7 separate regions of the Homo sapiens genome follow, and regions 1, 2, 3, 4, 5 and 7 are each reported to be linked to region 6. The links are microRNA targets in miRTarBase. Many come from high-throughput screens and were not tested one by one. Region 6 holds a microRNA gene; each other region holds the end of a gene's coding sequence.
The links. Region 6 holds the annotated microRNA hsa-miR-6859-5p (GAGAGGAACAUGGGCUCAGGACA, at 1,638-1,660, shown strand). A microRNA usually pairs through its seed, bases 2 to 8, with sites in the 3' UTR of a target mRNA and lowers its output. Matches are read on the target gene's strand: a 7mer-m8 pairs with bases 2 to 8, a 7mer-A1 pairs with bases 2 to 7 and ends in A, and an 8mer does both.

Region 1: the mRNA of USB1 is a reported target of hsa-miR-6859-5p. Seed matches in the 3' UTR shown: 7mer-m8 at 735-741, 7mer-m8 at 783-789, 7mer-m8 at 796-802, 7mer-m8 at 811-817, 7mer-m8 at 828-834, 7mer-m8 at 873-879 and 8 more.
Region 2: the mRNA of NHLRC3 is a reported target of hsa-miR-6859-5p. Seed matches in the 3' UTR shown: 7mer-m8 at 1,376-1,382.
Region 3: the mRNA of SRSF4 is a reported target of hsa-miR-6859-5p. Seed matches in the 3' UTR shown: 7mer-m8 at 410-416.
Region 4: the mRNA of DUSP7 is a reported target of hsa-miR-6859-5p. Seed matches in the 3' UTR shown: 7mer-m8 at 1,327-1,333 and 7mer-m8 at 1,404-1,410.
Region 5: the mRNA of PLEKHM2 is a reported target of hsa-miR-6859-5p. Seed matches in the 3' UTR shown: 7mer-m8 at 659-665.
Region 7: the mRNA of FERRY3 is a reported target of hsa-miR-6859-5p. Seed matches in the 3' UTR shown: 8mer at 1,082-1,089.

Annotation. Positions count from the first base shown.
Region 1 is chr16:58,019,695-58,022,759 of GRCh38, forward strand. USB1 (U6 snRNA biogenesis phosphodiesterase 1) reads left to right here. Exons shown (of 7, transcript NM_024598.4): 7 at 447-1,924. The coding sequence ends at 551. Among named protein-coding and RNA genes, the nearest start is that of MMP15, 4.5 kb to the right of the region's middle.
Region 2 is chr13:39,047,516-39,050,594 of GRCh38, reverse strand. It overlaps NHLRC3 (NHL repeat containing 3), which reads right to left. Exons shown (of 7, transcript NM_001012754.4): 7 at 486-2,921. The coding sequence ends at 2,669. Among named protein-coding and RNA genes, the nearest start is that of NHLRC3, 11 kb to the right of the region's middle.
Region 3 is chr1:29,145,595-29,148,673 of GRCh38, reverse strand. It overlaps SRSF4 (serine and arginine rich splicing factor 4), which reads left to right. Exons shown (of 6, transcript NM_005626.5): 6 at 1-931. The coding sequence ends at 264. Among named protein-coding and RNA genes, the nearest start is that of TMEM200B, 23 kb to the right of the region's middle.
Region 4 is chr3:52,048,031-52,051,109 of GRCh38, reverse strand. DUSP7 (dual specificity phosphatase 7) reads left to right here. Exons shown (of 3, transcript NM_001947.4): 3 at 1-2,191. The coding sequence ends at 295. It overlaps LOC124906238 (a long non-coding RNA gene), which reads right to left. Exons shown (of 2, transcript XR_007095908.1): 2 at 2,152-3,079. Among named protein-coding and RNA genes, the nearest start is that of DUSP7, 7.0 kb to the left of the region's middle.
Region 5 is chr1:15,733,654-15,736,732 of GRCh38, forward strand. It overlaps PLEKHM2 (pleckstrin homology and RUN domain containing M2), which reads left to right. Exons shown (of 20, transcript NM_015164.4): 20 at 144-1,116. The coding sequence ends at 281. SLC25A34 (solute carrier family 25 member 34) reads left to right here and starts at 2,605. Exons shown (of 5, transcript NM_207348.3): 1 at 2,605-3,079. The coding sequence starts at 2,833. RefSeq lists enhancers at 939-1,704, 1,705-2,471.
Region 6 is chr15:101,971,892-101,974,970 of GRCh38, forward strand. MIR6859-3 (microRNA 6859-3) reads left to right here and starts at 1,633; the gene lies at 1,633-1,700. It also overlaps the pseudogene WASH3P. RefSeq lists an enhancer at 2,714-3,079.
Region 7 is chr12:4,486,999-4,490,075 of GRCh38, reverse strand. It overlaps FERRY3 (FERRY endosomal RAB5 effector complex subunit 3), which reads left to right. Exons shown (of 14, transcript NM_020374.4): 14 at 177-2,341. The coding sequence ends at 269. Among named protein-coding and RNA genes, the nearest start is that of FGF6, 43 kb to the right of the region's middle.

The sequences.
Region 1 (3,065 bases), not on the chromosome of region 6:
TAGATTTTTACATGTAATCTGTCAGTTTTCAAATGTCAGCAACTAATTTGGATGTTTAAAAAACATTTTGCAACCAAACCAAACGTGCAGGCTGGATGCAGCTGTGGTCCCTCGTTAAGGAGCCACCTTGCGCTTGGCCTGATGTTGCTGGAGGTGGCAAAGAGCTCTAGTTTGGGCTCCGGCAGACCTGGGTCCCAGGCCTGGTTTTATTGGTTTCTGTGATCCAGGGCTCTGAGCATCTGTGTCCTCATCTGTAAAGTTGAGATGATAGGACCAACCTCAGAGATTACAGAAGTGATCAGACAAGATCACCAATGCAGAGCCTGGAGCCTGCAGCCTCAGCCTCGCCCAGCCTCTGAAGTTGGGTGAGCTGGTTTTGTTTGCAGTGCCCTGTGGGTCCCAGATGCCCCTTAATGTGACTGTCCTCCCCTGGCTGCTGTTTTAAGGCAATCGTGGATGGGTTTGAAGATGCTGAGGTGCTGCTGCGCGTGCACACTGAGCAAGTCCGCTGCAAGTCTGGGAACAAGTTCTTCTCGATGCCTTTGAAGTGAGCACCAGAGGCCTTCCTCCTCCAGGGCCCTCTGCAGACCAGGCTGAGATGGAGGAACCTGCTAAAATCGATGGAGATGCTTCTAGCCTCCCAGTAGGAGGCCCCAGCCATGCCTTCAACCTGGCAGGAGGTGTAGCCACTCCTCATCCTCCCTGAGTGCTGATATTCTCTCTCTCTCTTTCTCTTCCTCTTCTTTCTCTCTCTTCTCCTCTCTTTCTCTCCTCTGTCTCTCTTCCTCTCCTCTCTTCCTCTCTTCTCTCTTCCTCTCCTCTCTCTCTTCCTCTTCTCTCTCTTCCCCTCCTGTCTCTCCTCCCCTCCTCTCTTCCTCTCCTCTCTCTTCCTCTCCTCTCTCTACCCCTCCTGTCTCTCCTCCCCTCCTCTCTCTTCCTCTCCTCTCTCTCTTCCTCTCCTCTCTCTTCCCTTCCTGTCTCTCTTCCCCTCCTCTCTCTCTTCCTGTCCTCTATCTCTTCCCCTCCTCTATCTCTTCCTCTCCTCTCTCTCTTCCTCTCCTCTCTCTCTCTTGCTTTCTTCTCTCTCTCCTGTCTCGGCTGTTGTGGGTTGCAGGTTGGGTGCTGCTGTTGTGGTCCTTCCCAGAAACTGCCAGTAGAGGGCAGCCTGGGCATCCTAATGCTTACTCTGGTTGTTACACAAAGAAAATATTGGGGTCACTGGCGAGCCCACCCACACTCACCAGAATCTCCACTGTAGTCCCCCTAACAAACAGCCCTTCACTTCCTCTCCCACTTCAGCAATTTGTATTTTGATGCCATTGGCCTCAGATCAGAGTGTTTTAAATCATCACGCCCTGGCTTATCCCTGGTCGAGCCAGGACACGGGGTGCTTCAGTGGGTCTGTCACCCTCTCTCCTTGAAGCATGTTGCTTTTATTTATTTACTTTTACTCTCACCCTGCTCCTGTACCAGCAGGGGCCACTTCAAAGCCAAGGTACAGGGTGATAACTTGTGGTCCAGCATCAGTTTTCTCCACTTCTTTCTCCCACTCACCCCCAGCAAGGTGCCTGGGGAGACTTGAGCAGATGTTTCATTTTGGCCTGGCCAGTGGCTGAAAGCCAGGCCTCCAATGCACTGTGACCTCTGGCTTCCCCAGCAGCTTTCCCAGAGAGGCAGAGGGGCCTTCCACAGCCCGGGTTCTCCTGCTGCCTCCTGCCTGCTGCAGCTGCAGGCATTCTGAGGGGCAACGTGGAGGAAGGGCCAGGGATGCATGGGATTTTAATTGTTTCATCACACCTTCCCCGTGGCAAAGAAACAGTCAGTCCTCTTCAGGTGTCTTCTGGATTTCTGGTGATGGACAGAGAAATCTTTTTACAGTTTCAAATTATGTTCAACAAATAAAAATTGCATTTTTTATTTTGGATCTTTTTTGGACTACTTGTATTTAACCCAGTGAAAAGATGACTGTCACCTTCCCCTACCCTGTCCAGCTGTGTCTCACAGTTTGGGAGGATTCTTGGAAGTCTCTGCTGTGACTTCCAAGATGGCCTCGAGAGGCATTAATGATGCTTCAGTAAAATAAGGGTAGGGAGGGGTCACCCAGCCTGCCAGGTGTACACACAGAGTTCTCACATAGGACATCTAGCCTGGAGCTAGGTGGCAGGGGTCACCACCCTCATCCCTCACCCACATAGGCAGACATTGAAGCCTTATACTGCTGTGACACTGAGCACTTCCCAGAACCTTCTCGTGTCTTCCTCCCAGTATCCCCTGAAAGGTAAACAGGGTGGGAATGTCTAGTCCTCTGTTACAAGAACAGGTTAAGTGACTTGCTTGCATGAGAAATAGGGCCGTACTCAGCCCTAACCTCAGGTCCTGTGCTGGGGTGGCCCTGATCCAGCCCTGCACACCACCTCGTGGTCAGGCCTGGCATCTGGGTGGGGACATAGGGCTTCAGGGAAAGGTGTGGGGAGAGGGGCCTGTTGCCCAGGCTCCCATGGTGGCCCCTGCAACCCCACCTTTCCTGAAAGGGGCAGCCTCCCAGCCACTGCACTGAAAGACACAGGCACATTCTGTGCCTTGTTCCTGCTCCCCACCGCATTGATCTGCTGACTCCGACTCATCATTAGTCTGGTTCTTCTGGAGAGGAGGAGGATGCCGGGCATACTTTCTGGCTTGCAAGCAACATGGCAACTCCGGCTGTGCAGCCTGCACTTAACTGACACCTGCCCTGTGCCAGGCCCTGAACTGGGCACTTGGTGAACCAGACTAGGTCTACCCTCTGGGTGCTCACAGCAGGGCTGAGCAGGCAGGGAGCACAGAGAAGAATCCCCATCCTCAACATGGTACTTCCCCAGACTTGGGTACTGGCTCCTATTGGGAGGGGGGCAGGTGTGAGGTAGGGCCTCCATCAACAAGCCCAGGAAGAGGGACTGGGCCATTCCCCTGGGGGAGGATGTGGCTGGGGAGTCTGTCTGTGCTGAGGATGGAATTTGAGTGCAGCAACTTTGAGAAATGGGCCAAGATCAATAACTGGCTCCTCAATGGAGAATGGAAGGTGGCAA
Region 2 (3,079 bases), not on the chromosome of region 6:
TCCAGCCTGGGCGACCAAGCGAGACTCTGTCTCAAAAAAAAAAAAAAAAAAAAAAATTCGTGGTAAATCTCTGTTCACCATCAGATTTCATCCAAGTTTTCTCTGATCGATAAATATTCCACTTGAAAGACCCAATCTGATGGTACAGGTAGGGAAAGATAGAGCTAAATCTATAGCCTTTGGTTTTCTAATTTAGAACACTTTCTCCCCTCCCCACTCCAAGAATAGACCTAAAAAGTAGAAGTATAAAGATGTTCCACTTTTAATGCAGAAATGTAGACAATTAGCTAGTTATTACTGTCAGTTGTACCCTCCCACCACCTCAAAACAAGCTACATTCTTTAAATGTTCTAAGCAACTTCTAGTCATATTTATGCACATCAGCTTACACGCTATATGTGTGAAAAGTGGGATATTCTTTCAGCATCAACTTGTGATTTCATAATTGCTGAAATTCTTTAAAGGAATAAAAAGTTATAGACTGCTTTTGTGACAATAAAATCAAACTTTAATTGGGGAGCCAGATAATATTGCCTTTTCTTTCCAAAATTTTAATTTATACTTTTTAGTAAAAAACATAACACATTTCTCATTCATTTAACCAATTAATCCAAAGGAAAAAAGTGAAGTACTATAATCACAGGTACACTAACAAACACTTTTACAAAGACATTCAGAAATATTTGCAGCAGGTTTTATAAGACTCTGATATAAAACAAAGTAAAATAAAACGTTTTGAAATGGCAAAATCGGTTTACCTAGCCTGAATTGCTTCAAAGAGGCATTTGCACTTCTTGTCCTGGCTTAATAAAACAAAGTAAAATAAAACATTTTGAAATTTCAAAATCAGTTTAGCCTAAATTGCTTCAAAGAGGCATTTGCACTTCTTGTCCTGGCTTAAAAACAAACCCTGAAATTACTTTCTTTTATCCAAATCAATTGACCATATTAATCTGCATAAAGTCTATGAGGATACGTTTTGATAAATGCTATAAACACAAAATTAAGGCAAATCTGATAGTTATTGTCAAATAAATAGCACATTTAGAAGGGCCTTTGTTAATAAAATGCCTCTAATGTATCCAGAGGTATAGATTTCAAAGGGCAAGTCTGTACCTGTTGCACATCTGATTCTCACAGCATTCATGAAAGAGGAGACAATGATATTCCCATTTCACTGAAAACTAAGGTGACTTGTTTAAGGTCATACAGTCCGATCAGTGGCACCAACACATTTACCAATGGCCTTGGAATACAGAGTACAGGGCTTCCTGTTGGTAGATTTACCTTCCTAACCTCACGGAGATGTGATCCAAGTATCAAAACAAGTGTGAGTCCCTTCAGGTCTGGAAAATACTCCAGCCATAACAGGTGAAGAGGAAAGTCAGCTCAAGATTTGTCATATGCTACACAATTTACAGTAAAACACTGGGAAAAGCAGGAAGCTGATGTGAGGAAGGGTGAAGAATGATTTGAAAGATTACAAAATGGCAAAGTTCCTCCAAAACCTATAATAAGCTAAAACAAACTGGAAAAAAAAAAAAAAAGGTCTTAATTGGGAAGCCAATATTCACACCAAAGGAGGGAGTGGGAGGAGAAGATGTAGGAGGAAAGCAGGAAATTATCATCTTAACAGCTCAAAGGATTTGGCACATATCCATGTTATCTAAATAATCTTGAAATTTCTTTGAGGTAGACAAATGTTAGGAATAAGTTGAGTTCATGTAAAACAAAAGAAAGAAAAAGAAAAAAAAAGAGAAGGAAGCTCTACAATCCTTAGTTATTTGTAAAAACCTCTTTTACTAAAGTGCTTAGATGCCAGCCATTTTATTCCTACATTTAAAGGCTGACTGACATTAAATATCTTATAGGTAATGGACAGAAGCCAAGTTGGGCTTTAAAAAAGGCCTAAAAGCCTATCAAAGTTTACAGTACACTTCTAACTTTTTATACCTTCTTTACTTGGAAATTATTGTTTTCTCCTCCTTGTCCCTTGGTAAGCTCCTCCTCAGTTTTCAAGTCTGAGCTCAAATTCACTTCTCCTGCGAAGTATCCATGATTCCCTCAGTCAAATGCAGCACTCCTACTCCAAAAGTCCCACTATGCTCCAAGGTCGCTTTTGCTGTGTTGTGACTGTTTGCCTGCTTGTCTCCCCACTAGACTGCAAGCTACTCAAAAGGCAATCCTGCTTTTTCATTTTTAAGTCGTCAAGACACAGCACTCTGTGGGTACTCAAATTAATCAATAGTTCATCTTATTTACAATCTCTCAAGCAGCTCATTTTATGTTAGTTGCACAATCTGGAGGTCTGGAGTTCTTCACATGAAATTTAATAAATTATCATGCAAGCTCATTTTTATTCCCATTTTTTTTACCCAGGGAGAATCAGTCTACCAGGGCAAATAATGAGGTTACCACCTTAGTCCCTCTTCCCAACCCCATTTTTTAGTTACTTTCCTTTCATTAAAATATCCTTATGCACTTACAAATAAAACTAAGTCCCAAGAGGGCAACAAAATATAAGATTCTTAATGATACAAAAACAAATCTTTCTGATACTAGATCTTTTATACTAGAAAAATAAATTCTTGTGCTTGAACATCATTTTTAAGCACTTAGTGAATTGAGAATCTGAACTGCCACTTGAAATATTCCCAGGAAAGAAACATTATGAACCAAATGAAGGAACATAGCTATTCAAAGGGACATATTTTTGTACTTGTTTTGCTCCAATTTCTGCTACATAGACTGCTCCAGTCTTTCTGTCGACTTCTAGGAGATGTGGCAAAACTTGATCTGCTAGTTGGATTGTGCTGATCACAGAACACTCCCCAATGCTTCCCACTGGGGGTGCTGCTACGACTGAGAGCCTGCTAAGATTCAGCTGGGCCACAATCAAGTACTTCCCATCAGGAGTAAACCTAAGGAGAAAGACATTTAACATAATAAATGTCTGTGAAAAAACATAAGGGTATTTTTTTTCAACATTTTAATCCCCTACTGTGCCAAACAACAGTAGGCACCTACTTGCTGAATGATTCTTTTAAGAAGAATTTTAATTTGATCTAATTCTGTTTAT
Region 3 (3,079 bases), not on the chromosome of region 6:
TCCCGCTCCGTGTCAAAGGAGCGGGAACATGCCAAGTCTGAATCCAGCCAGAGGGAAGGTCGAGGAGAGAGTGAGAATGCTGGCACCAATCAGGAGACCCGGTCCAGGTCGAGATCCAATTCCAAATCGAAACCAAACCTTCCATCAGAATCACGCTCCAGATCAAAGTCAGCTTCAAAAACCCGATCTCGGTCCAAGTCTAGATCCAGGTCTGCTTCCAGATCGCCCTCCCGATCTAGATCTAGGTCCCACTCAAGGTCCTAACTGGCTATGGCCACAGCTGGAACTACCCGAGAAGTCTTTTGTACATGTTTGGTAGCCGTAGCACAAGTGATTGGAGTAGAACATGTCACTGCTGTACATTTTTAACTCCCCTAATGGTGTGTCTATAATTGTTAAATCTAAGTGCTTCCTCTCAGTAAAGCCTCCTGGCACCAGGCCTTCCTGCTCGACTGAAAAAAATTTTCTCTTTGAAAATCCCCTTTTACTCATGGCCCACAGTAGAATATCCAAAACGCCTTGGCTTTCAGGCCTGGCCTTTCCTACAGGGAGCTCAGTAACCTGGACGGCTCTAAGGCTGGAATGACCACATAGGTAGGTATGGTGAGTTCAACCATTTTTGCTCTTGAATTGATGCCCTTCGATGTATGCCATTTAGTGAAAGTGCTAAGTCTTAAGTTTCCTACCACTTTGGTTTCATATTTTTGGACTTAACAAAGTTGTGAATAGCACAGTCGAGGAAAATTGATACCTGCAGTAACCCATAGGAAATAAACTGTAGAGTTCCATATTCTGGTATTGTGATTATATTGTTTTATATTAAAAAAGAAAAGAAAAGAATTTTTTTTAATTTTATTTTTCCCCGTCTTGCAAAGTATAGTGACCCCTGTTTCCATTAAATTTGAATAAAGACTATTTTTGCTTGACAAAATTTCATGGTGTTTGAATTGAAGTTGTACTTTCTGATATATCTTGATATGTCTTTTCTTAGCATAAAAAGTTCATGTGTAGGCCGGGCACGGTGGCTCACGCCCGTAATCCCAACAGTTTGTGAGGCTTAGGCAGACGGATCACAATGTCAGGAGTTCGAGACCAGCCTGACCAACATGGTGAAACCCCGTCTCTACTGAAAATACAAAAATTAGCCAGGCATGGTGGTACACGCCAGTAATCCCAGCTACTCAGGAGAATGAGGCAGGAGAATCGCTTGAACCCCGAGGGGTGGAGGTTACAGTGAGCTGAGATCACGCCACTGTACTCCAGCCTGGGCGACAGAGCGAGACTCCGTCTCAAAAAAAAAAAAAAAAAAAGTTCATGTGTAATGACTGTTTTGTTCCTTGGGATCACCCATCTTAGGGAACCAACACGTTCCTAAAGGATTTTTCTCACCAACAGAATAAAGGCAGGTTTCCGAGGAATTTATCATCCTTTCTCTTAAGAAACGTATGGCCAGGCTGATGAAGAATGAATCAGTTTGGAAACTTGGAGCATTACCAGATGAGTTGTTCATGAATATAGAGTTCTGTGCTGTTTGTCGAAATTGCCATGAATCTGCGGTATCATGATCTCATCACATTAAGATCTGAACTAATCAAAAACCAGGGGGAAAAAACTATACTGGACTTTTTTTTTTTTTTTTTTCCTGAGACAGTTTTGCTCTTGTTGCCCAGGCTGGAGTGCAGTGGTGCAGTCTCAGCTCACTACAGTCTCCACCAACCAGGTTCAAGTGATTCTCCTGTCAGCCTCCCAAGTAGTTGGGATCATAGGTACATGCCACCACTTCCGGCTAATTTTTGTATTTTTAGTAGAGACGGGGTTTCATCATATTGGTCAGGCTGGTCTCGAACTCCTGACCTGAGGTGATCTGCCCACCTCAGCCTCCCAAAGTGTTGGGATTACGGACATGAGCCACCGCGCCTGGCCTACTGGATAACTTTTGTCCTAATTATTCTTCCACTGCTTGTTTGGCCTAGCTCTCTAGGAGGTACCAGAAGTACAGTGGTTCCAATCTGGTCTCAGCCCTTGAGGGACTGTTGAGGGGCATCACAGCAGGGAGGATGCTTGAGGGCTTTCATTACATGCTGCAGCAAAATCTTGGGAAAGGAGATTCACTTGACTGCTGCCTGTGAATTTGTTGGGGGCTGTCCCTAGGCTTAAAACAACTGTCCTGTTGCTTCCTATAGACCAAAATCTTCGAATGCATTGGAAATACGAAAGTAGAGTGTCTCTTGCCCTCCTGGAGTTTGTGATCTAGTTGCTAGTGATGAAGGCAAAGTGGATATTCAGAGAACAGAGTCAGAACTTCATCTGGGATCAGAGGTAGCACTTAAGCTGAACCTTTTGGGGATGTAGGGTGGGACGCATTCCTATTGAAAGCCTGTGAGCATGGCTTTCATGGAGTTGGGAAAGCACAGGGTACTGTGCCCAGGAAACGTGGAGTTTGATACTGGAGAGTTAGAGTTTAACAAAATGGATTGTGTCATAGAGGGCCATGGATACCAGGAAGAGGAATTTGACCTTTATCCTGTAAGCACTGGGTAACATTGAAGGTATTTGAATAGGAGGGTGCGGGGAGTAGGGTTATGCTTCTAGACCTGACAGCATTGTGAAGGATTGGATGCAGGGAACCCAATAGTTCAGGGCATGCAACCCCAGATGATACGGGGCCTGCTTGATCAAAGCCATGATAGGAGGGAGCAGAAGAGGCAAGATTAGCAAGACTTGGCAAATGTCCTGGCAAAGGAGCTATCGGAAGCAGTCACAGAATGATGAGGCATCATCTGAGGAATGGGGAAGATGACAGGGGAAATTAGTTGAGTTTTGAAAACGTGTAATTTCAGAAACAGACGAGGCAGCCAAACCAAGGAACCTCACTCAGTTTCTGGAGAGTTTCCCAAACCTTTTTCTGGGCCCATTCTCGTGTCATCATGACAAGGTGATGAACCTAACCAGTAAAATTCCCACTGCCTCAGAGGATCTCATGCTGGTCTCCAGTGATGACGATAATTTATTATTCCGATTTTATCCCTATAAGGATAGGGATGTTTGTTGCGGCATTTTGTTTCTTTCAGGTTTTTTT
Region 4 (3,079 bases), not on the chromosome of region 6:
CAAGAAGTGTGGTGTCCTGGTGCACTGCCTGGCAGGCATCAGCCGCTCAGTGACGGTCACTGTGGCCTATCTGATGCAGAAGATGAACCTGTCACTCAACGACGCCTACGACTTTGTCAAGAGGAAAAAGTCCAACATCTCGCCCAACTTCAACTTCATGGGGCAGCTGCTGGACTTTGAGCGGACGCTGGGGCTAAGCAGCCCGTGCGACAACCACGCGTCGAGTGAGCAGCTCTACTTTTCCACGCCCACCAACCACAACCTGTTCCCACTCAATACGCTGGAGTCCACGTGAGGCCTGGTGCACGGGGGGCATGGCACCAGGCCCCTGCTCGGCTCTCCACAGGGCTAGGTGGGAGAGCCCAAGCCCGCCACCTCTGGCCTGAGGAACCCCCAGATGTCACCTGTGCCCAGAGGCCCAGGCTGATCGGTGTCGGAGCGCCCCTCACCATCCTTGGGGGCAGGGCCCGCAGGCAAGGTCTCCCACTGCAGGGCTTGCTGGAGAGGCCTCGGCTCTTGGACACGTGGCTTTGGGCGTCCACCAGGGCCTCATCCTGTCCAGGACGCTCCTTTCTGCTGACAGCCCAGCCAGTTTGGCTGTTTTTTAAAGACACATCCACGGACCTGAGTTTACTTTTTACTTTTGGCAGGTAAATCCAAGCTCCCTGGAGCACAAAGAGTGTTTGAGCTCTTCTTGATTTTTCTTTTTTTTTTTTTTTTTTAACAAAAAGTGTTATTTTCAGGCTACATGCAACAGTGGATTGTATAACCCAGTATTTCATCCCTTTCCTGATCCTGCAAGAGAGAGAAATGTTCAGTTTTGTTTTTCGTTCAATTTCAAAAAGCAAGTATCGTGTTTGTTTTTGTTTTTGTTTTTTAATGGAAAAGACAGACGCCATGTTGACCTTGACCAAATGCGTTTTGCACATGTGTGAAGCCTCTGTTTCCTCAGCGGGCCCTTCTTGAAGGGGTGGCTTACTGCTCTTCAGGTATTGGGACCCCCAGTCGTGCCGCCTCCCACCCTTGGCCCAGTCTGACTTAGCTCTGCATTCGCCTGTGATGACTGCTGCAAGTTGTGATTGGTGGGCTGGATGGTGGTCTTTGCATTTTCTGCCGTCTCATCCATCCCTCTGGTGGTCCCTGCAGACCTCCCTGAGGCAGAAGGTGGGGACCCTGGGGCCCTGCCGCTGTCCCCCAGGAGGTGGGCCGCAGGGGGCTGCCAGGCAGTAGCATTAGCCCTCTGGGGTCAGCCCCTAAGAAGGCCTGGGCTCTGAGCCCTTTTATATACTTAGCCACTACTTCTGTCTGTCTGTCTGTCTCTCTCTCTTCCTCTCCCTCTCTCTCTTTCTCTCTCTCCCTCTCTCTCTCTTTCTTTCTCTCTCCCCCCCTCCCTCTCTCTTCCTTTCCTCTCTCTTGTTGTAACTGGGAGTGGAGGCCCAGTGGCTGGGGAGACATTAGGTGGTGGGGCCCAGCCCGACCTCCAGGTTCTTCCTTCTCCCTAGCTGTTGCTTTGGTCTGGCCACTCCCAGCCCCCTTGTCCCCTTGGAAGCTTGCCCTGCCCTCATCTTGCCCATGCCTTCTACTGCCAGGAGACTTGCACCCATTTCAACCCTAGGGCGGGGGCAAGTGGGGCAAGGATGGACCAGCAGAAGGGGGGTAAGGCTCTGTTCACTTCCCCCTGCCTCCACAGAACGAAGCCACGGATTCCGTTATCTTCCTCCAGTTTTGTTCCTTCTCCAGCCTCAGTTCCACCAGGTGTCAGGACTGCATGGGGGCCTGGGGCAGGCAGAGGAGTCAGGCCAGGGTCCCTGACGGAGCAGCACTCAGCATGTGAGTGAGGCCACAGAAAAACTCTGCCCCACTGCTTCTTACCTCACGGGGGTGGCTTTCAGGGATTCTTTAGCGCAGCAGATTAAAATCTTGCCACAGTCGAGAAATTGACAACAAGCTTCCATGCTGTACATGGTTCTCTTTTTCTCTCTTTTATTTTTAAAAAGAAAACCCAGAAAGATGTACCAGATTTGTGTAAATGAGGGTATGCCAGAAGGTGGCCAGTTTTGCTTTATGATCTTATGAAGGAAGATTTGTGACCCTACGTATATATATACACACACATACATATATATATATATCCCGAACCAACAACGGGACTTTGTTTATATTGCAAATAAATATTATTTTTTCTTTAAAATGAGTCGTGTCCGATAAGGGCTTGGGGCCTGGGAAGGAGGGGAAGGAGTGCTGTCGACAGGCATCCTAGTGCCTGCTCTGTGTGAGGCACTGGCCTGGTTCTGCTTGGGGTCTGCTGGCCACTTAGACTAATCAAGGTGCCCCGCAGATGGGAGGGAGCAGCCACAGTTTCTGGATGAAGCTGGGGCAGGTGGCATTTCCCCAGCCCTTAGGCACTGGCAGGCAGAGGCATCAGGGCTTTCTCTGTGGGCTTCTGCTGAAATCAAGGCTTGGAGAGGTTGTATATACCAAGTTGACACAACTGAGTCCTGACTCGCCCTTCATTGTCTGAGGCTGTCTGCTTAGGCATTGCCCAGATTGCAGCCCCCAGGACCCTAACTCTTTCTCTTGCTGCCGTGTGGGTGAGAGGGGAATGTGCATTTAACCCTGCCCCTGCAGGTCCTGAGATATCAGTGGGTAGTGACAGGTCAGCCCTTCTTTGCTTCTTAAGGGCTGGGTGGCCTTGGACAGGTCCCTTAGGCCGATTGCACCTGGTTCCTGAGTGCTTTTCAGCTTTGTGGCATGAAGAGCACATTATTGGCCTGGGCTCACAGGGAGGAATCAGCCGTGCTCAGGCGTGTACAAGGAAGGGTGGGCATGGGCCTCTGTCAAGGCTCCCCTGGGGGTGGGGGTCTAAGCGAGGCCCTGGGCTAGAGCAGGGAGGAGGTCTGGAGAAGGATGGGGGCCACAGTCTGGGGAAGTGAGGCCCCAGTGGACAACAAGCCCCGAGTTACAGATCAGGAAATGGAGGCTCCAGAGTGGCTTAGGTCTCCCTTGCCTCTGGCTGGATCAGGTGAGCCCCAGTCAAGGACTTAAGAGGCCTGGAAGCTGACTCAGTTTCCCCATTTCT
Region 5 (3,079 bases), not on the chromosome of region 6:
GTGGAAGATGTTCCCAGGGAGAGATGGGGAGGGCCTGACAGGGGCTCCGTGGCCAAGGCAGAGGCAGGCCTGGTGCCCACAAGCCCTGAAGACTCCTGTGGCCCTCAGTGGCCCTCATCTGTTCTCTGCACGCCCCAACACAGGTGGACCTCCCCCACACGGCGATCCAGGAAGCCTCCAACAAGAAGAAATTCGAGGATGCCTTGAGCCTCATCCACAGCGCCTGGCAGCGGAGCGACAGTCTCTGCCGCGGCCGAGCCTCCCGAGACCCCTGGTGCTGAGGCAGAGCTGGTTGGCGTCCCTGGTGGGCAGGAAAGGAAGGCACGCCAGCCGGCAGGCACACTGTCACGGCTGTTGTCATGCTGTCGGGAGCCTACAGTCCACCCCTGCCCTGGGCGGCAGAACCACCGAGTGTGGCTTAAGACAGGGTCCCTCCACTCCAGGGATCCAGATCAGGTGCCCGGCACCCCTGGGCATCCTGCCCGACAGGTAGCGAATGGAGGTCGCTGGGGGCAGAGGGTCCGAGCCCTGTGGGCTCTGCGGATGCACGCCCTCCTCCCGGGCCTCCGCCTCAGTCTGCAGAATTTCTGCCGAGTGGCACCGAGAACACCATCCATCTAAGGACGAACAAAAGAACCAGGAGGGCGGGACCCCCCTCTTCCTCTCCTGGGTTGGGGGCTGGGGCCCTGAGTGCCCAGCCATCCTTGTTCGTGTTTGAACACTCTCCTGGCCACGTGGGGAAGCGGGAACACGGGGTGTCTGCGCATGTTTCCTCCTCCTAGCTCCATCACTGCGCACACAGCTGCCTGCCTCGCCAGATGCAGGGGGGCGGGCAGCCCTCCCTGGCTGCCAGGAGGCTCTGCATGCCCACAGTCCTGCCCTGCCTGTCCCCTCAACCCGGCAGTGCCTGTAGCACCGAGGAGCAAAGGGGGTGGATGGGGGGCTTGGAGAAGGGCGGAGCCCACCAGCCTGGCATCCATGTTGACATCTTCTGACTGTCCCCTGCTTGGCTGGAGCCAGGCCCTTCCCTAGAGTTTCGTCAAGAGCCTCCTGGGGAAGGGGTCAGGTGGTTTGGGTTTTGTTTTTTAAAATAAAATAGACATGTTATATTGCCAAGGCTTGTCACTGGCCCTTTTTGAGCAGGGTAGGGGAAGGGAGCTCTCCAAATCCCTTGGGCCCTTTTCTGCAAACCTTCCTCCATCATCTGCCCTGTGCCTGACACAAGGGACACACGGGACATGCAGAACCAGATCAGCCACCGCTGCCGGGCGGACTCACCGTCTGCAGACCCTCAGGCCCTGGGAGTTTCTCGGCCCGACCTTTGCCCTCCGTCCTGTTCCTGTTTGCTGCAGCAGCCAGGGGAGGAGCAGCCACCAGCTCAAGCCCCAGGGCACGTCTGCACCGCCGCCCACCATCTGCAGCCCACCCCGGGGCAGGACGCTCCTGCCTCCACAGCCCCGGGGGTGAGTGCCCAAACCCAGGAGAATCCAAGCTGTCCTCGCTGCCTCTTGCTGCGCCGTCCCCTCCAGGGCTGGCCAGAGGGTGACAACCCTGCCAGGCCGGGAGCCTGAGGCCCTCAAGCCACTCAGCATTGCTGCCTCAAGGGCCTGGGAGGGAAGGGGTGGGCCCTGGGAGGTGGGTGTGGGACTCCAACTTGGGTGGTTCTGCCTCTAGTTTGGACTGGGCCTTGGGTGACTGAGGGTGGCCTGGCAGGAGAGAGCTGTCTGGGGGCAGAGGCCAAGGTGGGCATGTTGGTACCGGCCCCAGCCTGAGCAGACACACCTGACAGCTGGCCCAGGTGGCGTTCTCTTCTCAGCGGGCACAAAGGGCATCCCAGGGCAGGCCTGGCAGCAAGTCCTTACCAGCCAAGGTCACTCCTCAAGTCCTACTCACCCAGGTGCCCTGAAGTCCTGGGAGCAGCGAGGGGGGCATAGGAGCCAGAGGCAGTGGGGGTGGGGGCGAGCAGGCGATGCGGGTGCCTTTATCGGGTGCAGCACTGACCTAGGCACACTCTTCTCATCGCCAGTCCTCCACAGAACCTTCTGGAGTGGATGTCAGTATCTCCATTTTACAAATGAGAGAAACTGAAGCTCTGAGAGGAAGTGACTTGCCCAGGGGTCACACATGAGAGCCACACCTGGGATTCCAATCAGCTCCCCAGGGCTCCAGAGCCCTTCTCTACTTCTGACCCTGCTGAGCATGGGCCTATAGACGGTGGGAGCCAGACTGAAGACTTGAGTCCTGGAAAGGGGAAGTCAGTCACCAGGGGCATATCAGGGGCAGGGTGGGGCAGGGGCGGAGTTGGCCGTGTACCCCATGCCAGGGACCTCCCAGTCACTTGCCCCCTGCCTAGGGCTCTGCCAAAGCTGGACAGGCTAAGCCAGAGGCAAGGCAGGGGTGCCAGCCCTTTGCCCAGGGCCAGAGGGAGGCCAGGAGGAGGTGCCTGGGCTGGTTGGCACCTTCTCCCTATCCACGCTCTCCCTCCAGTCCCAAGTGACCTTTCCCCCAGATCCCAGGGTCCAGGCCCGCCCTCGGCTGGCAGGTGTGGGCACAGAGGCAGCTGGGATTGGTCGCAGCTGGCGGAGGCGCGTCCCAGGCTCCGGCAGACCGCTGGAACAGCTGAGCAGAGCAGGTGGACTGCTGAGATAGACCAGGGACACCAGGCAGCCACAGGCCTGTCAGACCAGGACCCTTACCCTCTAGACATGGCCTCGGTCCCCTGCAAACCCCAGCCCCGTAGCCCTGCGAGGTTACAGACAGCCTAAACGCCACCACCACAGGGCCTGTGCCGTGCCCCTGACCCGGGCACAGAAGGCCACTGGCCCGGAGGCCATGGAGACGGTGCCCCCAGCAGTGGACCTGGTGCTGGGTGCTTCTGCCTGCTGCCTGGCCTGTGTCTTCACCAACCCCCTGGAGGTGGTGAAGACGCGGCTGCAGCTGCAGGGGGAGCTGCAGGCCCGGGGCACCTACCCACGGCCCTACCATGGCTTCATAGCCTCTGTCGCTGCTGTGGCCCGAGCAGACGGGCTGTGGGGCCTGCAGAAGGGGCTGGCTGCCGGCCTTCTGTACCAAGGCCTCA
Region 6 (3,079 bases):
GACACTTGGGCCTCGGGCATCAGGAGCCAGCCACAGGGATGTCTGGGGAAATGGCGTTCCATGAGATGCAAGCACACAAGAATGCACTTGGCACATCTGGGGAACAGCAGGCAGCTGATATCACTGGGCCCACCCCGCACCAGGGAGGATGGAAGCAGGTGAGGAGCTAGACCACACTGAGGCGGTGGTCGGGACTCGGGGTTTGCTCAGTGAGCCGTTCACTATGTGCAGGGGCAGTTCCCCGTCTGAATTTAGGTGACGACACTCAGGTCCAGCCTTGCCAGTCTCAGCCTCCGGTCTCCGTTCCCCCTCTGCAGAGGCCACATTGTCTGCTGCACGTGATCATGAGGGGTTGTGAAGTGCTTGCCCCATCAGTAGCCATGTGTGCATGTGTAAATACCATCCTCTGTGTGCCCTGGAGGCTGTCCTTCAGATAGCATGTACAGGTGGCAGCATAGGGCCTGTCCCTACTGAGAGTGCAGGGAACTCAGCACCGTCAACTCCTCGACCCTGCAGGTCAGATTATCCTTGTAGAGGCCCCCTGGATGGCACCAAGATCGGCCCTGGCAAGTAGGTGACCCTGACTTCAGAGCCCTTGCCTGAGGGCCTGGCCTGGCAGCTCTGCTGTTAGAAGCAGGAGGTGTGCAGGGGGTGGGGAGCAGCCCAGCCTCTGTGATCTTCTCCATGGCAGGATCTCCCAGCAGGTAGAGCAGAGCCGGAGCCAGGTGCAGGCCATTGGAGAGAAGGTCTCCTTGGCCCAGGCCAAGATTGAGAAGATCAAGGGCAGCAAGAAGGCCATCAAGGTAGTCCCCATACCCCTGTGTCCTGAGGCTACTGGGCAGTCCCTCCATTTCCCCGTGCCTCTGAGGCTGCCCAGTCTCTGCCCTGCTGCCCACCTGTACCTTGAGCTTTCTTCTCGCCCAGGCTTCCAACTCCACCCTCTCCTGCCAAGCAATCCTAGCCCTCTGAGCCTCTTGGGGCCCCCTCAGACTTGTCCCTGTGTCCACAGGTGTTCTCCAGTGCCAAGTACCCTGCTCCAGAGCGCCTGCAGGAATATGGCTCCATCTTCACGGGCGCCCAGGACCCTGGCCTGCAGAGACGCCCCCGCCACAGGATCCAGAGCAAGCACCGCCCCCTGGACGAGCGGGCCCTGCAGGTCTGCTGGCCGCGCATATAGCCTGTCACACACCAGGAGGACTGGATACTGGGGAGGAGCCGGGGCCACCATAGGGTTCTGTCCCCCAGAGGAGGCTGACTGGGATGGGATGGCAGCTGATTAGGCCCAGCACCAAATATTCACCATCCGTTGGCCATCCTGGCCCTCCCAGGAGAAGCTGACTTTCCTGTGTGCGTGAGCACCAAGCCGGAGCCCGAGGACGATGCAGAAGAGGGACTTGGGGGTCTTCCCAGCAACATCAGCTCTGTCAGCTCCTTGCTGCTCTTCAACACCACCGAGAACCTGTATGGCCAGAGGGCAGGGCCGAGGGGTGTGGGCGGGAGGCCCGGCCTGGCTTAGTGGGGACCCAGGGCATCAGACACAGGTACAGCACATAGGCCAGGAGCCAGGGGGTGACTGGGGTGGCTCGGCTCGGGAGGCCTGGGACCCCACAGTGCACGCTGTGCCCCTGATGATGTGGGAGAGGAACATGGGCTCAGGACAGCGGGTGTCAGCTTGCCTGACCCCCATGTCGCCTCTGTAGGTAGAAGAAGTATGTCTTCCTGGACCCCCTGGCTGGTGCTGTAACAAAGACCCATGTGATGCTGGGGGCAGAGACAGAGGAGAAGCTGTTTGATGCCCCCTTGTCCATCAGCAAGAGAGAGCAGCTGGAACAGCAGGTGGGAGGGGTGGGACAGAGGTGGAGACAGGTGCAGTGACCCAGGGCCTTGCCAGAGCTCCTCTCCAGTCAAGGCTGTTGGGCCCCTTATTCCACCCATGGGAGGTGCACACAAGGTCTTGTTGGCTGCCCCTGCAGGTCCCTGTCACCTCTCACATGTCCCTGCCTAATCTTGCAGGTCCCAGAGAACTACTTCTATGTGCCAGACCTGGGCCAGGTGCCTGAGATTGATGTTCCATCCTACCTGCCTGACCTGCCCGGCATTACCAACGACCTCATGTACATTGCTGACCTGGGCCCCGGCATTGCCCCCTCTGCCCCTGGCACCATTCCAGAACTGCCCACCTTCCACACTGAGGTAGCCGAGCCTCTCAAGGTAGGTGAGCTGGGTTCTGGGATGGGAGCTGGGCCGGGGACCTCCCTGGTCACACACCTTCTTTCCTAGACACCCCACACTTTGTGTTTCAGACCTACAAGATGGGGTACTAACACCACCCCCACCGCCCCCACCACCACCCCCAGCTCCTGAGGTGCTGGCCAGTGCACCCCCACTCCCACCCTCAACCGCGGCCCCTGTAGGCCAAGGCGCCAGGCAGGACGACAGCAGCAGCAGCGCGTCTCCTTCAGGTGGGAGCAGCTCTTTGAGGCCACCTGATTTCTGGCGTGCTCAGTGCACTCGGGTGGATTTTCTGTGGGTTTGTTAAGTGGTCAGAAATTCTCAATTTTTTGAATAGTTTCCATTTCAAATATCTTGTTCTACTTGGTTCATAAAATAGTGGCTTTCAAACTGTAGAGCTCTGGACTTCTCACTTCTAGGGCAGAGGGAGCCTGAACAAGTGAGGCTCTGGGTTCCCCATTCCTAATTAAACCAATGGAAAGAAGGGGTCTAATAACAAACTACAGCAACACATTTTTCATTTCAGCTTCACTGCTGTATCTCCCAGTGTAACCCTAGCATCCAGAAGTGGCACAAAACCCCTCTGCTGGCTCATGTGTGCAACTGAGACTGTCAGAGCATGGCTAGCTCAGGGGTCCAGCTCTGCAGGGTGGGGGCTAGAGAGGAAGCAGGGAGTATCTGCACACAGGATGCCCGCGCTCAGGTGGTTGCAGAAGTCAGTGCCCAGGCCCCCACACACCGTCTCCAAAGGTCCGGCCTCCCCAGCGCAGGGCTCCTCGTTTGAGGGGAGGTGACTTCCCTCCCAGCAGGCTCTTGGACACAGTAAGCTTCCCCAGCCCTGCCTGAG
Region 7 (3,077 bases), not on the chromosome of region 6:
GGAAAACCAGCCCTTGTCCATGGCCATGCAGTTACATCGGCCATGAAAGATAATTTTCACCTACTGCACTCACATATTCCTAGTAGAACTAGGTCCATATTTTAAAATACTTCTAAAATTATTTTTAAAATCAATGATGATTTAACAAGTGCAATTATTATTTTTTCGTCTTACAGAGTATTTCTGAAGAAATGTTTTATCAACTTAGTAACATGCTTCCCCAGATCTTCCGAGTATCATCAACACTCACTCTGACATCCAAGCACTAAACCCTTATAGATTGACATGCTGGCAGAAGATGATTGTTAAACTCTCCAGGAACTTGTGCTATGCTGGGAATCTGTCAAGCAAAAGATGCCCAGAAAGAGAACTTGCAGCTCAATCCACAAATCAAGATACATGTGTGTGAAACCATTCCAAAAATTTATATACTGCACAAACTGGTGATCAACCCCTAACTTAAACACTTAAAGTCTCTTTATGAATTTCTCTTTTTTTCTTCTCTGTGTTACCTGTGAATATTAGTAATCTAAAACTTTTTATTTATCACACATGGACACTTGGGAAAGGAAACTTGATTATATTTACATGGAGGCATTTGACTTTTTCAAGAGGCTTGACTCGTCTCAGGTGCAATCCTTAATTAAACATACAAACAAAATTTTCCTTTTACTTTCTTTGCCAAAACAAAATGTAAAAGCACTGAAATATACATTGCAAGTACAAATTTCCTGTGAAAATCTTTTTATAGAAACACAAATGTATAAGACAAATGTGCTTGTTCTTTTAAATTCTCCTGTTTCAGAATCTCTTTTTAATCTACTCCTAAGGATGTACAAGTTAGAGTCAGAAGACGTTTTGGATTTTTTCCCTCTCTCTCATCCTCCCGCTGTGCCCTTGCACTTGCATATTAATAACATTTCATGGACTGGGAAATAGTGTTCTTTTTTGCAAGCTTGATGTCAAGTTAGTCTAAACCAGCACCTGGCAGTATTTTAGTGCTCATCAACATTGTGACAATCACACAAGGAAGATCATTTCTACATTTCTGTCCTCCCTGCGTTCTCAGCTTGCTTAACCATTCCTCTACCTCTTGCATTTTTTTGCGGATAAATGTATCCCCATTTCTGCTTCTCTGTTTCCCCTCCTTTTCCATTGTTTTTCCTTATGGTACTACTTTCTCAGGTGCTACATATCATATATTTGTCCCATCTATAACATATTTAAATGCTATAAGTAGTAACTCCATTAAACAAAGGCATTTACAAAAGCACACAGGTGTTTAGAAAAGCAATAGTTTCATCAATTCCAAGTTATGTGGATATTGTAACTGGCCACAAGAATGAAATGGAGGGCATTTGGTGTCATAAGATGGCATGTCTTGATGACAAGAAACAAAACGCCCTTCATTAATATGCCTCAGTGTAATAACTATTATAGAAACTGTTGGCAAGCAGAGTGCTTTCCTATAACAGAATGTGTCTTAATTTTCTACTCGAGGGAAAGGTTTGTCCAGGTAACAACACTAAAGACAACCCTAAGAACACCCACTCCAGCAGTATGTCCATTAGACACTAAAACTCTCCAAATTATTTGTCAGGGAGCCTGGCGATTCTGCCAAGAAGGCAGGTGTTTTGCCCTTAGAGCCTATACAGTTCTCTTGGAGAAATTGTCTTTCAGGCACCACTGTTAATCACTGAGACTGATTCTAATGCAAAGCAGGGAAGACAGAGGCAGAAACCAGGAGAGTGGTAGATCAGTGCAGCCCAGATATCGGAATGGAGGAGCAAAGTTTCATTCACGGATGTTTGTTGAATGCTGCTGCCCAACTCTTCCTTTGTCACCTCTAGGCTATTCCACTAAGTTACTTATAAACTGGTGGCTTTAACTGAGGGCTGTGTAAAGGTACTATTTGGCATGTGAAGTCAGGATAAATTTATCGAATGTCCGTTTTCCACATGCAACTGTGTTACAGAAGTAGTAAAATTGGAAGAATCATGTTTATGGTGTTACCACTGATGGAAACACACAAACACCAAGCTAATAATAAATATATAACTTAAAAAGCTAATTATATGCACTGAAATGGTGGGAATTTTAGTGATGCAGTAATTGAGGAGTCTGGAGTTTTGTATTTGGACCAAGAATTATGAGATGAGGATCTTTTTCTGAGTGTTCTAAAGGGCTTCTTGAGGGGGAGTGGTTTAAAGCACTTCATGAATGATGTGAAGAAGGTACCTTGGGCTGAGACAGCATTCTAGGTACAGATGGCACTCTGTTCAACCAACTGTGGATGGAAAATATTCTGAAAAAAAATACAATAAAAATTTTAAAAATACAATATAACATCTGTTTACATGGCATTTACATTGTATTTGGTATAAGTAATGTATAGACGGATTAAGTATATGGGAGGCTGTGTGTAGGTTGTATGCAATTACTACACCACTTTATATGAGACTGGAGCATCCAGGGATATTGATATTGGCAGGGGGTCTGGAACCAGTCTCCTGCAGATACCAAGGGACAACTGAGTAAGGCGCAGATAGGAGCAGAAGCAGAATGGAGGCAGTGGTAAATGGCCAGTAAGTTGAGAGGAGCTGACCACGAGAGTCTTTGAGGATGGGGAGATTAGCACAAACATTGACATTGGTGAGGATTGTGAGTTAGAAGTTTTCTATTTGTATAAACAGTTACATATTCCTAAATGGCCCTCAAGGCCTTAAGAGTGTGCTTTGGAAATCAGGCAGAGGCACTGAACCTGAGGTCTCCATTCTGTGCTGCTCTTTCCCCCCCTTCCCCCATTTCTGCTCTCGAAGCACCACACAAGCAAAGCCATTGATCTAGAAGTGTGGCACCAGCTGTTTCTCAGCATGACAGTGTGACCAGAATGGAAGAAATGCATGAAAAAGAATTTCAGCGGGAAGAAACTGAGCTTGCCTGGGAGTTGGCAGATCTCTTATTGGCACAGTACACACCATCATTTGTGTTACTTCAGTTGGATCCTGGCTAATTCTCACAAGAAGAAAACATGTTTCACAAAAGAAAGATGAAATCACAGAAACATTTCTTTTCTA